Linked DNA regions of Homo sapiens. The protein of the gene in region 2 interacts with the protein of the main gene of each other region in a biochemical or structural test. Each region holds a gene or a part of one and is shown on either strand. Other genes may lie near its edges.

The links.
Region 1: the proteins of BIRC2 (region 2) and PACS2 form a complex in vitro, tested with the Homo sapiens proteins (one study listed by BioGRID).
Region 3: of the proteins of BIRC2 (region 2) and MAP3K3, one has a biochemical effect on the other in vitro, tested with the Homo sapiens proteins (one study listed by BioGRID).
Region 4: of the proteins of BIRC2 (region 2) and FBXO7, one has a biochemical effect on the other in vitro, tested with the Homo sapiens proteins (one study listed by BioGRID).

What each region holds. Positions count from the first base shown.
Region 1 is NC_000014.9:105,380,748-105,384,247, reverse strand, and holds part of PACS2 (phosphofurin acidic cluster sorting protein 2), read right to left. Parts: intron 3,295-3,500; coding exon of another isoform or gene 3,292-3,294; coding exon 3,149-3,291; intron 2,335-3,148; coding exon 2,190-2,334; intron 1,772-2,189; coding exon 1,667-1,771; intron 1,442-1,666; coding exon 1,335-1,441; intron 890-1,334; coding exon 735-889; intron 1-734. UniProt on the Homo sapiens protein: Multifunctional sorting protein that controls the endoplasmic reticulum (ER)-mitochondria communication, including the apposition of mitochondria with the ER and ER homeostasis.
Region 2 is NC_000011.10:102,371,214-102,374,713, reverse strand, and holds part of BIRC2 (baculoviral IAP repeat-containing protein 2), read right to left. Parts: intron 1-3,500. UniProt on the Homo sapiens protein: Multi-functional protein which regulates not only caspases and apoptosis, but also modulates inflammatory signaling and immunity, mitogenic kinase signaling, and cell proliferation, as well as cell invasion and metastasis.
Region 3 is NC_000017.11:63,681,417-63,684,916, forward strand, and holds part of MAP3K3 (mitogen-activated protein kinase kinase kinase 3), read left to right. Parts: intron 1-349; coding exon 350-483; intron 484-919; exon of another isoform or gene 920-1,342; intron 1,343-3,500. UniProt on the Homo sapiens protein: Component of a protein kinase signal transduction cascade. Mediates activation of the NF-kappa-B, AP1 and DDIT3 transcriptional regulators.
Region 4 is NC_000022.11:32,481,311-32,484,810, reverse strand, and holds part of FBXO7 (F-box only protein 7), read right to left. Parts: intron 915-3,500; coding exon 687-914; intron 1-686. UniProt on the Homo sapiens protein: Substrate recognition component of a SCF (SKP1-CUL1-F-box protein) E3 ubiquitin-protein ligase complex which mediates the ubiquitination and subsequent proteasomal degradation of target proteins and plays a role in several biological processes such as cell cycle, cell proliferation, or maintenance of chromosome stability.

The sequences.
Region 1 (3,500 bases), on a different chromosome or scaffold from region 2:
CCTTCCAGACAAGCCCACTTTCCTGCCACCGAAAGAGAAAGCCACCACTGCCCCTCCCTGGTGGATGCCTGTGGCCCCGCTGAAGGAGCTCCAGCCCTGAGCTGAGGTCCCAGAGCCCTGAGTGCCACTGAGGAAGGCCCAGCAGGGCACATGTGACCGTGCAGAGGCCTCGGCTGGCTCAGGGCTCTGACGTCGGCATCGTGAGGGCCACACGGGAGAGGTGTCGCCTCCAGGCCTTGCTGCTGGTCAACAGATTAAGGCTGGGTGGGTTTGTTTCGTGGTAAGACACATCGTATGGACCTAAAGAAGTAATGGAGTTCGACGACACAGGACCTGGACGATTTGAGAGGATTAATAACGAGCCCTGCTTTGCACTTCTGACTTTGGAAATCGAAACTGGCATAGAGTTATCACAGCGACTGATGGAGGAGACACCCAGCTCAGGCCCCTTCAGAGGGCGATGGCTTTATCTTGACCCAAATGGCTGTTTTAGGGCAATCAAGTTATCTTGCATATAATTAAAATTAACAAAGTGTTACTGTATCAAACAAACATTTAAAAACAACAAATGTGTAGCAAGCAGGGACACCACGCCATGCCACACCGCGCCACACCACGACACACCGCGCCACGCCACGCCACACAACACGCCACGCCACGCCACACCACTCCATGCCACGCCACACTGCCCGTGGCATCTGTGCCCAGGCCCAGGTGGACGGCGTGGTGCTCACCCAGTGGGATGACCAGGAAGCGCATGTAGCCGAGCCAGTCGGGTGTCTTGTGGGACAGCTGCTCCACAAAGAGCCGCAGGATGGCACTGAGGTAATGCTGCGCTCCCGCCACGGCGATCTTCACGGGGGTCGGGGGCTGGGAATTGCAGTTGCAGCTGCAATCCAGAGGCAGGTGGGACGGAGAGGGGACAGACGCCTCAGGGGAGCCGTCCTCCATCCAAGGATGCCAGTGTGAGCCCAGGGGGCTCCGTGCCTGTGGCCGCTCATGCCACAACTGCCCTGGAGCTGCCCAAGCCCAGGACCCCCACATGCCCAAACGTGCCCAGGCTGAGGGACCACACAGTCATGGCCTCAGCCCAGGCTTCCAAGGACAGGCCAGGAGGCCACCACTCCAGTGTGGCAGGACACCCACCAGGCTGCTGCTCCCGCCCACAACTGAGGGGAGGCCAGGCTGCGAAGAGCGCATGGGTCAGCCTCTGTGGACACCAGCCACAGCCCCAGGTCCAGGACGCACCTAGCCCCGGAGCAATGGGCAGAGGTGGGGGTGCAGGGACCCCGAGGGGTACTTGGGTGGTGAGTACAGGGTGGAGCCCAACTCACTATCTCTGTATCCGTGAGACGATGGTGCTGAAGGCCGCCTGGACGTCCGCAGGAGAGCACGTGCACACCACGGGGAGCGTGTGCCTCTGCAGGACGTCGGAGAGGAACTGGCAGAAGACAGGCAGACGCTGACTTCGGCACAGCCGCCCAGGCCACCCCCAGCACCTGACCCTCACCAAAGCTCTCAGGGGCTCCAGAGACCCCAGGCACGTCCAGGCAAACCACAGCCAGCAGCTCCAGCACCCAGGTGTGCCGGGTAGGGGGCAGCTTCAGGAACCCACTCTCCTCTGTCCTACACCCTGACCCTCCACTCCAAGAGACTGCCCCTCTACCTGCCCCTGCCAGTCCGAGGTGTTGACAAGGATGATGTTTTCGGGAAGCTGGTCATCGGAGATGAGGATGTGGTTGAGCTGGTCATACACAGTCTTCCTGGGGATCTGGAGGCACAGAGCCCTGTCCACACCCAGAAGAGAAGCACAGCGCCCATCCCCACCACGCCAGCCCTGGTGCCTGCAGTGCCCCTGCTCCCCCTGCAGCCACAGAGGCTCGGTGGCAGGAAGAGAGCTGGCCAGCTTGGAGAACTGCCCTGGGCTAAATCAGCCAAGCAATGAGGCTGCCCTGGACCAGGGAGGGCAGCAGAAGGACTAGAACTTGCCCTGGGGTCCACATGGTCTTCCTGACAAACCAACCCATGGCCCGCCCGCCCTGCTGTGTAGCAGGAGCCCTCCAAAGCCCAGGCATGCTCTGTGGCCCAGCACCCTTGGCCCCCTGTGCTTCTCTTTTTGCCCTGCTCTGGTTGGTGCCAGGGTGACCACGAGCCCTGCCTCCTGGGCGTGCCACGCCCTCCACCCCCACCTGCAGCTGCACCTGTAGCTGGCTCCGGGCGTCCGGGCAGCGCTCGTTGTCCAGGCTGTTGGCCCGCTCATTCTGGGGCCGTGCTGCCTGCCGCTCCTTCAAGGATGTGCTCCGGCCCCGTCGGCCAGCCTGCTTCCCCTCGGACCTATTGGGGACCAGGACAGGCTAAGTGGCTGTGGCAGCAGGAACAGGAACAGGGGCAGAGGCAGGGGCAGGCCTGCAGTGGCCTACACATTGTGGTGGGGACAGGGAAGGGTGAGCACAGGGCTGACTGATGGGCAGTGGGAACATGGGCTGCACAGAGAGGTCACCAGCCCTGGGAGGGCCACAGCAGCAGCTGAGTACAAGTGAGGCCGTGCCTCCGATGGGACCCCACACAGCTCTGCCTGTGAGACTTCGAGCCAGGCCAGGAGGCTTGGAGCCACCGTGAGGACTGAGCTCACCCTCCCTGCCCGGGCCAAGAGCTGGGCAGAGCCAGGTGCAGGCCAGTGCAGGGCACTGAGGCTGCCAGGGCGACCTGGCTCCAAAGCGCGGACACAGGCACCTGCGTGCCACCACAAGGTAAAAACCAGTGCCCAGACTCGCTGCTTTGGAAAAAGTCCCAAATATCACAGAAACATGAAATTGAAATCCTGGAAGAATCAAGCTGGTGTATGTGTGTCTTTTGGCTGAGGCAGGGGCTACTCAGGGGGATGTGGGGGCACCTGCTGGAGGGCAGACCCGCCTGACCCTGCCCTCAAACAGGTAGGGTGGAATCTGGGGCTGCAGGCTTGACACCCAATGCCGGGCCAGGGGGTTTGCTTCTCCTTTTTAAGAAGGACGAGGCCCTGAATCTGCTGTCTACACCCGAGGGAGCTCATCAGGATGGACTGACACGCACCCACCCCGACTGATGCCCGTGACGGCCCCTCCCCCGACAGGTGCATCACCGCCCCGCCCCGCCGTGCAGCCCCCATCACCTGGTGGAGGGGATGACAAGGGACTCTGTCTTGGTGATCCTCCCGCTGGGCGGCAGCCTCTCCGTGAACACATCCAGGGTGGAGGCCTCAGCCTCGGGGCTGTCCTCAGGCTGTCCAGGGTGCTCCCTCGGGCCTGGCACACCCTGCTGAGCAGAGACGGGCCTGGAGCCTCCCGTGGAAACCACACCCGTGCTGCGGCCTCTCCAGCCCTGTGGCCTCTGGCTCGGGTGAGGGTTTAGGCCTCTCTAGGCCGTGGCTCCTACATGTGGACCCGGCCATACGCTGACCAGGGAGCCTAGCTGAGCCAAATTCCAAGCACAGGGCTCCCATCCGGGCCATGCAGGGTGACCAG
Region 2 (3,500 bases):
GCCAGGAACTCGAACTGGGTGGAGCCCACCACAGCTCAAGGAGGCCTGCCTGCCTCTGTAGGCTCCACCTCTGGGGGCAGGGCACAGACAAACAAAAAGACAGCAGTAACCTCTGCAGACTTAAGTGTCCCTGTCTGACAGCTTTGAAGAGAGCAGTGGTTCTCCCAGCACGCAGCTGGAGATCTGAGAACCGGCAGACTGCCTCCTCAAGTGGGTCCCTGACCCCTGACCCCCGAGCAGCCTAACTGGGAGGCACCCCCCAGCAGGGGCACACTGACACCTCACACGGCAGGGTATTCCAACAGACCTGCAGCTGAGGGTCCTGTCTGTTAGAAGGAAAACTAACAAACAGAAAGGACATCCACACCGAAAACCCATCTGTACATCACCATCATCAAAGACCAAAAATAGATAAAACCACAAAGATGGGGGAAAAACAGAACAGAAAAGCTGGAAACTCTAAAACGCAGAGCGCCTCTCCTCTTCCAAAGGAACGCAGTTCCTCACCAGCAACGGAACAAAGCTGGATGGAGAATGACTTTGATGAGCTGAGAGAAGAAGGCTTCAGACGATCAAATTACTCTGAGCTACAGGAGGACATTCAAACCAAAGGCAAAGAAGTTGAAAACTTTGAAAAAAATTTAGAAGAATGTATAACTAGAATAACCAATACAGAGAAGTGCTTAAAGGAGCTGATGGAGCTGAAAACCAAGGCTCGAGAACTACGTGAAGAATGCAGAAGCCTCAGGAGCCGATGCGATCAACTGGAAGAAAGGGTATCAGCAATGGAAGATGAAATGAATGAAATGAAGCGAGAAGGGAAGTTTAGAGAAAAAAGAATAAAAAGAAATGAGCAAAGCCTCCAAGAAATATGGGATTATGTGAAAAGACCAAATCTACGTCTGATTGGTGTACCTGAAAGTGATGGGGAGATTGGAACCAAGTTGGAAAACACTCTGCAGGATATTATCCAGGAGAACTTCCCCAATCTAGCAAGGCAGGCCAACGTTCAGATTCAGGAAATATAGAGAACGCCACAAAGATACTCCTCGAGAAGAGCAACTCCAAGACACATAATTGTCAGATTCACCAAAGTTGAAATGAAGGAAAAAATGTTAAGGGCAGCCAGAGAGAAAGGTCGGGTTACCCTCAAAGGGAAGCCCATCAGACTAACAACGGATCTCTCGGCAGAAACCCTACAAGCCAGAAGAGAGTGGGGGCCAATATTCAACATTCTTAAAGAAAAGAATTTTCAACCCAGAATTTCATATCCAGCCAAACTAAGCTTCATAAGTGAAGGAGAAATAAAATACTTCACAGACAAGCAAATGGTGAGAGATTTTGTCACCACCAGGCCTGCCCTAAAAGAGCTCCGGAAGGAAGCACTAAACATGGAAAGGAACAACCGGTACCAGCAGCTGCAAAATCATGCCAAAATGTAAAGACCATTGAGACTAGGAAGAAACTGCATCAACTAACGAGCAAAATCACCAGCTAACATCATAATGACAGGATCAAATTCACACATGACAATATTAACTTTAAATGTAAATGGACTAAATGCTCCAATTAAAAGACACAGACTGGCAAATTGGATAAAGAGTCAAGACCCATCAGTGTGCTGTATTCAGGAAACCCATCTCACGTGCAGAGACACACATAGGCTCAAAATAAAAGGATGGAGGAAGATCTACCAAGCAAATGGAAAACAAAAAGAGGCAGGGGTTGCAATCCTAGTCTCTGATAAAACGGACTTTAAACCAACAAAGATCAAAAGAGACAAAGAAGGCCATTACATAATGGTAAAGGGATCAATTCAACAAGAAGAGCTAACTATCCTAAATATATATGCACCCAATACAGGAGCACCCAGATTCATAAAGCAAGTCCTGAGTGACCTACAAAGAGACTTAGACTCCCACACATTAATAATGGGAGACTTTAACACCCCACTGTCAACATTAGACAGATCAACGAGACAGAAAGTCAACAAGGATACCCAGGAATTGAACTCAGCTCTGCACCAAGTGGACCTAATAGACATCTACAGAACTCTCCACCCCAAATCAACAGAATATACATTTTTTTCAGCACCACACCACACCTATTCCAAAATTGACCACATAGTTGGAAGTAAAGCTCTCCTCAGCAAATGTAAAAGAACAGAAATTATAACAAACTATCTCTCAGACCACAGTGCAATCAAACTAGAACTCAGGATTAAGAAACACTCAAAATCACTCAACTACATGGACACTGAACAACCTGCTCCTGAATGACTACTGGGTACATAACGAAATGAAGGCAGAAATAAAGATGTTCTTTGAAACCAATGAGAACAAACACACAACATACCAGAATCTCTGGGACACATTCAAAGCAGTGTGTAGAGGGAAATTTATAGCATTAAATGCCCTCAAGAGAAAGCAGGAAAGATCTAAAATTGACACCCTAATATCACAATTAAAAGAACTAGAGAAGCAAGAGCAAACACATTCAAAAGCTAGCAGAAGGCAGGAAATAACTAAGATCAGAGCAGAACTGAAGGAAATAGAGACACAAAAAAACCCTTCAAAAAATCAATGAATCCGGGAGCTGGTTTTTTGAAAAGATCAACAAAATAGATAGACCGCTAGCAAGACTAATAAAGAAGAAAAGAGAGAAGAATCAAATAGACGCAATAAAAAATGATAAAGGGGATATCACCACTGATCCCACAGAAATACAAACTACCATCAGAGAATACTACAAACACCTCTACACAAATAAACTAGAAAATCTAGAAGAAATGGATAAATTCCTCAACACATACACTCTCCCAAGACTAAACCAGGAAGAAGCTGAATCTCTGAATAGACCAATAACAGGATCTGAAATTGTGGCAATAATCAATAGCTTACCAACCAAAAAGAGTCCAGGACCAGATGGATTCACAGCGGAATTCTACCAGAGGTACAAGGAGGAACTGGTACCATTCCTTCTGAAACTATTCCAATCAATAGAAAAAGAGGGAATCCTCCCTAACTCATTTTATGAGGCCAGCATCATTCTGATACCAAAGCCGGGCAGAGACACAACAAAAAAAGAGAATTTTAGACCAATATCCTTGATGAACATTGATGCAAAAATCCTCAATAAAATACTGGCAAAACGAATCCAGCAGCATATCAAAAAGCTTATCCACCATGATCAAGTGGGCTTCATCCCTGGGATGCAAGGCTGGTTCAATATACGCAAATCAATAAATGTAATCCAGCATATAAACAGAGCCAAAGACAAAAACCACATGATTATCTCAATAGATGCAGAAAAAGCCTTTGACAAAATTCAACAACCCTTCATGCTAAAAACTCTCAATAAATTAGGTATTGATGGGACCTATTTCAAAATAATAAGAGCTATCTATGACAAACCCACAGCCAATATCATACTGAATGGGCAAAAACTGGAAGCATTCCCTTTGAAAACGGGCACAAGACAGGGATGCCCTCTCTCACCAC
Region 3 (3,500 bases), on a different chromosome or scaffold from region 2:
AGGAAGAGAGAAGGTGACATTATGAAGGAGTAATTATATATAAGAATTTTTTTAAAAGCTAGTCTGATTGCCAGCTAAAATGGTCTCCTAGGGGTTATTCTGGTTTCTGTTTTGTGTCAAGGTTTTTTTGGTCGGATATGCCGTAGTGCCTGCTCCATCTCTGGAGTTTGTTTCCTATTAGGAAGGGACTTTGTTTGCCTGAGGGAGCTGGCACATGCTGGACGTTGGTGCCATGACCCATCTGAGTCACATTCCTGACCTCTAGGGCCTAATAGTTGGCCCCATGCCTGCTCCTCTTGGGCCACACACCCTGGGCTCTGTTGTTGAAAGCCTCCTTTATGTGCTCTAGGCTCCCAGAACCCTGGCCGAAGCTCACCTCCCCCTGGCTATGTTCCTGAGCGGCAGCAGCACATTGCCCGGCAGGGGTCCTACACCAGCATCAACAGTGAGGGGGAGTTCATCCCAGAGACCAGCGAGCAGTGCGTGAGTATAGGGGGGCTGGGATATGCCTGTGGCCTGTATCAGCAGACCAAGCTCATAACAAGGGGTTCTTAGTAGTCACAGTGCAGAACTGAGGGACATGAACCCCATTTGAAAGCTCTTTTATAAACCAGGCCTGCCCAAATATGGATTGTCCCTTTTTAAGGGCCAAATAACAATTTCTGCCAAAGATGGGATCTAAAGGATCTAAACTACATAGTTTCCTTGTTGTTGGGTGAGGATTTAACAGATTTTTCTTCATCGTGGTCCTCTCATTGTTCCTACAGGCAGGCACCACCACGCCCAGCTCATTTCAGTAGTGTTTTAACATACGACTGGTTCTAAAGTGACAGGTTATGTTTTTCATTGGATATATTTTAGTTTTGCTGTTTCTTGATGAAAGGTAAGGAGTAAACCATATCAAAATTACACTGTAGGATTGGTTAGGCTGATCATTTATGATGGTAGACAGTTGTATTAGTTATCTATTGCTCCATAACAAATTACCACAAACCTAGAGGCTTAAAACAATATACATTTATCATTTTCCAGTTTCCCTGGGTGAGGAGTCCAGGCATGACTCAAATGGGTCCTCTGCTGAGGGTCACACAAGACTGCGATCAAGGTGTCAGCCAGGCTGCCTGCCTTTCTTGAGTTTGAGGCTCTTTTCTAAGCTCAGATGGTTGTTGCCAGAATTCAGTTTTTTTGTGGCTGTAGGACTGTGGTTCCTCTTTTCTTCTGAATGTCACCCAAGGGCTTCTCTGAGTTCCCTTCCTAGAGGCCACCTGCAGTTCCTTGCCATGGGGCCCTCTCACAACATGGCAGCTTCTTCAAAGCCAGCAGGAGAATCTTTTGCTCCAATCTGCAAAGATGGAGTCATAAAACATCACATAATCATAGGAATGAATATTCTATCCTCTTTGCCATAGTCTATTGGCTAGACTCACGTCACAGGTTCTACTTGCACTAAAGGGAAAGGCAGTTCATTGGGACTAATTGGAAGAGGGAGCAATCACCTTAGGGTGTGTCTACCACAGTGGCTCAGCCATTTTAGTGGCTAGCTTTTAAATTGGTGGCTTACTTGATGCAAATGGCAATTTGGCTTAGTGAACTCACCAAGCATGAGATCTCTAGCTTCATTCTGGTCTTTTCAATAAACTTGCTTTGATGTAAAAGAAAAGGCTGCTCTTACACTTTCTGGGCTTGGCCTGAGAAGGGGAAATTTCTTAAGGGGAAAATGTCCAACAGAAGGGCCTGTGCTGTCACATGGGAGATCTTATAAAAAGCTGATTCTTGTAACTTTTCTTTCATTATTCAAACTATGTAGGCTATGAGAAGCCCTTTGTACTCTTCTTCCTTCTATACTCCTGCCTTCCAGATAAATTCATGTTTGGAGTAGTGACCTGGAGTGCCATTAGCTGCAGATTTCCTTTTTGGGCATTTTACTGACCATCCTTTCTGGTTTCTCTAACCAGGGCACTTCTGGACATCAGCTGTTCTAGGGGTGACTTGGGTGTAAAATCCCAGAGATTGCAGATGAGCTTGATTGCCCTCAGTCTATGTCCCTCGCCATGGTCCTATACTCTGCCCCCTTCACTTTTTTACTTTGCCTGCATGGCCCTGGAAGGCCTGGGAGGATTTGACTCCCAGTGAGGACAGACTTTTAGAAAGAGGCCAAGGAAGGCAGTGGTTGGGGATTGCCAAGGTCCTCCCCCAGCGCCTGCCTCTTTAGCTGAAGAGAATTGCTCCTGGTAACAGGCCATTTGAGATCAATCTGCTTAACAGGAACGAACACTGCATAGTATGTAATAAAAGAATATTCCAGTGTGACTTTACTGAAAAGTGAAAATATGATAAGTTTTGTTTTTTCTTTAATCAGGTTTAAGCAATAATTGCATCTATTTACTAATTTTTAGAATGAGCAAAGCATGATTCATGTTAATTTTTTGGCCTAATTTTTCCAACAAAAATTATGTCAGTCCGGTCGCAGTGGCTCATAGCTGTAATCCCAGCACTTTGGGAGGCCAAGGCAGGAGGATTGCTTGAGGTCAGGAGTTCAAGACCAGCCTGGGCAACATAGCAAAACCCTGTCTCTACAAAAAAAAAAAATTTAATTAGCTGGGCATAGTGGCACACCTGCCTGTAGTCCCAGCTACTCGGGAGGCTGAGGTGGGAGGATCACTTGAGCCCAGGCTGCAGTGAATTGCACTCCAGCTTAGGTGACAGAATGAGACCCTGTCTCGAACAACAGCACCAACAACAAAATGCTAGCACAATGTAACGTCCTTCACTCCCTGCTTGACTTCTAACCATAAAGAACGTCATTTTTTACAAGAGCGTTCACAGGACTCAGCAGTTTTCCCCAAGGCCTCTTGTGAATCTTTGGTATTCTTCCTCCACCACACCTGCCATGTTATTTATTTGTCCATTTTGTCTTTTTCTGTTAACTAGTCTAAATTTGCCAAATATGCATCTGATGGATTTAAAGCAATTCTCTCCGATGTTGGTTTCATCCACTTTGGCTATCCTATATCCTTAGCAACATTTGCAGTTTTACTTTGCAATTAATTTGCCTTGATTGGCAGATTTTAAAAAATCATGTGTGACAACATGACTTAAAGCATTTGAAATTATGGGTGGGGATGGACCCTGGTATTAAATGGGAAAAAATATTTGAGTTGGAAACTAATTTTATGGAGGTCGTTAGTGAATTTTCATAATTCTGATACTTTGTTTCCCTATGTAATTTTTTAAAATTAATTAAAAAAATATTTAAACAGAAACAAGATCTCACTATGTTGCCCAGGCTGGTCTTGAACTCCTGAGTGCAAGTGATCCTTCCCTCTCGGCTCCCAAAGTGCTAGGATTACAGGCATGAGCCACCAAGTCTGGCCCCTATGTAATGTTTAATGTTGGAGCTCGGATAATGAATATTCTGAAATTGAAGACCCCACCCCAACTTTTGTGCAGAGAAAATGAAAGGGAGGACCTTCAGGACATTGATTGGAGAAAAAGGGATT
Region 4 (3,500 bases), on a different chromosome or scaffold from region 2:
TCTCTCTCTTCAAAGACTCACTTCTCTCCTAGCAAAGCCATATGATTATTTAAAACTCCGGCTCAAATATCACTTCCTCCGTAAAGCCTTTTTCAAAGAAAAATTGTTTGCCATTTCCTTTCATCCCCTAGCATTCTATTCATATTTCCATTACACTTCAATTGTATTATTATCTATGTTTACCTGTGTTATTTCTGAGTATCTTTTTATTCATCTCTCTCCTCTATGTATGGACTCCTTGAAGACAAGAAATATCCCAATATTTTTATATCCTAATTTCTAGGTCAGTGCATGGCATGCTGCAGGTGTGCACTGATCACCGAACTACTCTGTATCTTTGTAACTTATAACATGGCTCACAGACCAGCAACATTGGTATTATGCAGGAGTATGAAGAAGTTCACGGTCCATTCTACAGTTACTAAATCAGAATCTGCATTTTAATAAGGTCCCCAGGTATTCCAAAGCGCATTAAAGTTTGAGAAGCAATATTCTAAATGTTCTCCTCCATGAATTCCTGGCATCCTATATATGAGTATGTTTCTCCCAGAACTTCACCAATATAGCACAGTGCTTTATATTTTTGTCTCTCTCTGCCACTCTCAGACTACGGGCAACTTGAGAGCAGGAACCATCCACATGTATGAGCAATCATAAGATGTCTGTGTTTTGCTTGCAGTACTTACCTGAGGTATGTAACCTGACTCCAACATGAGAAGATGTATCAACACTATCAAGGCATCATTGGCATCAGAACAGTCAGCTGATTGATACAAGGTCTCTAATGAATGTGGCACTTGCCCTTCCACCGATTCACTACAGAGCATGGGTTCTGAGGGATAGAAACCTGTGCCCTCTGCCATATGCGCATTATCTTGAATTGACTCAGCTTCAAAATTTTGACTAGGCCCTAACTGAAAAAGGAAAACAAAACAATGAATTAATTAAAGACTTATTTTTACACTATACATTTTTGTATCCTAAAGTGAACTAAGTGCTGAAAGTCAAAGTACATCATTGGGTTCAGAAATGGGAGACATTTTAAGTGAGTCCTTACAAATAAATAAGCCTGCGACCTACTCTTCCATCCTGAATTCCTTACCTCTGTTAATTCTAGCTGGTATGTCAAGAACCTGGAAATCATCCTAGACTCCTCCCTCCCTAACTAAACCTTGTTCCACATCTGATCAGTCTTCAAAGTTCCCTGAAACTAACTCCTAAATATGTCTAAAATTTGCCCCTTCCTGCTCTATTGGCACTTCAAACTCTCATCATTTATTTCCCGACATCCAGCAAGAGCTTCCGTTGCAAGTATCCCTTCTTCAACTTTCTTGTCTTCCAATACACCCCAGTCCCTGCTGCCAGAATTTTCTTGACAATTAAAAATCTGATCATGTACTATGTCGCAGCTTAAAATTCACCAGTACCTCCCCAACATAAACAGCATTTCCCTCAATTGTGCCTTAGATGTTCTTAGGAAAAAAGGTGGTGCACACGGAATAAGTGTGGAAAATACTGCATGCTGCAGCCACCTAACTTCACCCTCCATATTCACAAAATACACTATTCGCATTATATAAGCACTGAGGAGTCTAATAACAATAATAGTGTGTGCCTAACACTTTACCAAAAAACACTATCCTCCGTCCTCAGCAGTCAACATCCCTGTGACACCATCTCATGAAACTAGATTTTCAGAGGACACTGAGAAATGCAGGTCTACAAATGAAGACCAAACTTCTAAATCCCTTAGCATACAAAGTCCTTCATTACCTGATCTCTGACTCATTATCAAGTTCACTTTCTGCCAGTGCCTTCTTACTCATCCCAGTATTTTCCACTTCTTCAAAAGAGGTAACACAGACCACAACTCTGCCTTGCAACGGGCTTGATTACTGCACCTTATCACACTGCACTGTATTGCAATTTTCTGATTACATATCTGCATCCTTCCATGACTGCAAGTTTATAAAAAACCAGACTACATGTCACCCATTTTTGTAACCCCAGTAAAGTACCTAGCACATAGCAGGTATTCAATGTTTGCTGAACAAATGCTGAAGGATAATACCTTACAACTTCATAATGTCTTTATTTTCAAAATGTTTTCTTATTTGCACTTTATAACAATCCTATAAAATAGGCATGGCAGGTATCGCCTTTTTATAGATCCTATAATTATAAATCAGAAAGATTAAATAACATAATCAAGGTTACCAGCTAATAAAAATTTGAAACGAACCCAGATCTCTAAACTTGCAGTTCAGGGCTTTGAGATGTAATACATGGCTTCAAAAAAAACTAAGTTACCTATATTAAGTTTGCTCAGAAAGCTTGTTTCCTAGGCATATGCCCAACTCTTAATGCAAAGCATACGTTTCGTCTTTTTAGGGTTTGTTTAAAGAAGGGGCAAAGGAAATTAAAATTACACAGTATATGTAAAAGGTTGGAGAAATGGAGGGGAGCCGGAGGTGACAGCTGTTCTTCCAAAATCTCTGAGGACCTAAGCCCTAGGGCTTATGGAAAAGATCCAAAGTCACCTGTTAAAACCTAAAGGCCAATGACAAGTCACATTACCCAAAAAGGAGGTATGGCACAAAAATATTTCCATATTTCCTAAGAAAACAGAAACAACTACATTAAAAACCACTTAACATCAAGCTAAACTATGAAACATAGGTTTTGCTTCTTTACCACTATGTCTAACTTTTGGCCATTTACTACTTATTGGCAGTTGTGTGGGACAGAATATATGAGGAAAAATGAAAAAGGGTACCCTAGGCTGAGTACATGAGAGGGAGATATCAAAATCCCCTGCTGGGCTTGTCAAGCCTTACTACTACTCCATAAGAACCACTGACATTCTCTGAGCTATTCTGATATGAATATTTATCAAATTCTTCACATGTGTAAAAATGAAAAAAAAAAGGTGAGCACCACACCTCTCTAAACAGATCATTTTGCCATATGTCATTTACAAAAGACTAAAACAAGTGACTAAGATGCATGAGAGCTAATATTAGGTTCTGATACCTGCTACCCGTTTCTCATTAAAGACTCAAGAGGCACTCGATGAATTCCCAAATATGATGAAATAAGAAAACTGATATTTAATTACAAGAGTAAATTTACCTCCTATGGTTTCAAGTTTTACGCATCTATTTTCCTTTTCTAATGCTCCATTCTACATTACAGAGTGTGATGTACTTGAAAGCATTATTTATGAGATCTTGAGCTCAGTTTCCATACTCTAAAGATTTTCCTGTCACCCTTTACAAGTCTTGGAATACAAAACAATATGCAAAATCTTAGAACTGAAATTAGTAACTTCAGGCAACATTAATTTCTCAAAATTTTCCAAAAGGAAACTAGCAAACTATCACAAATACTGTGAAAAGCTTCATCTTACTAGACAACTTTAAAAGTACACAGAAGTAAAAGTAATGGCCCCTACTAAGTCATCCCAGAACAAGTCTATCAGCAAAAAAGACTCAGAAATA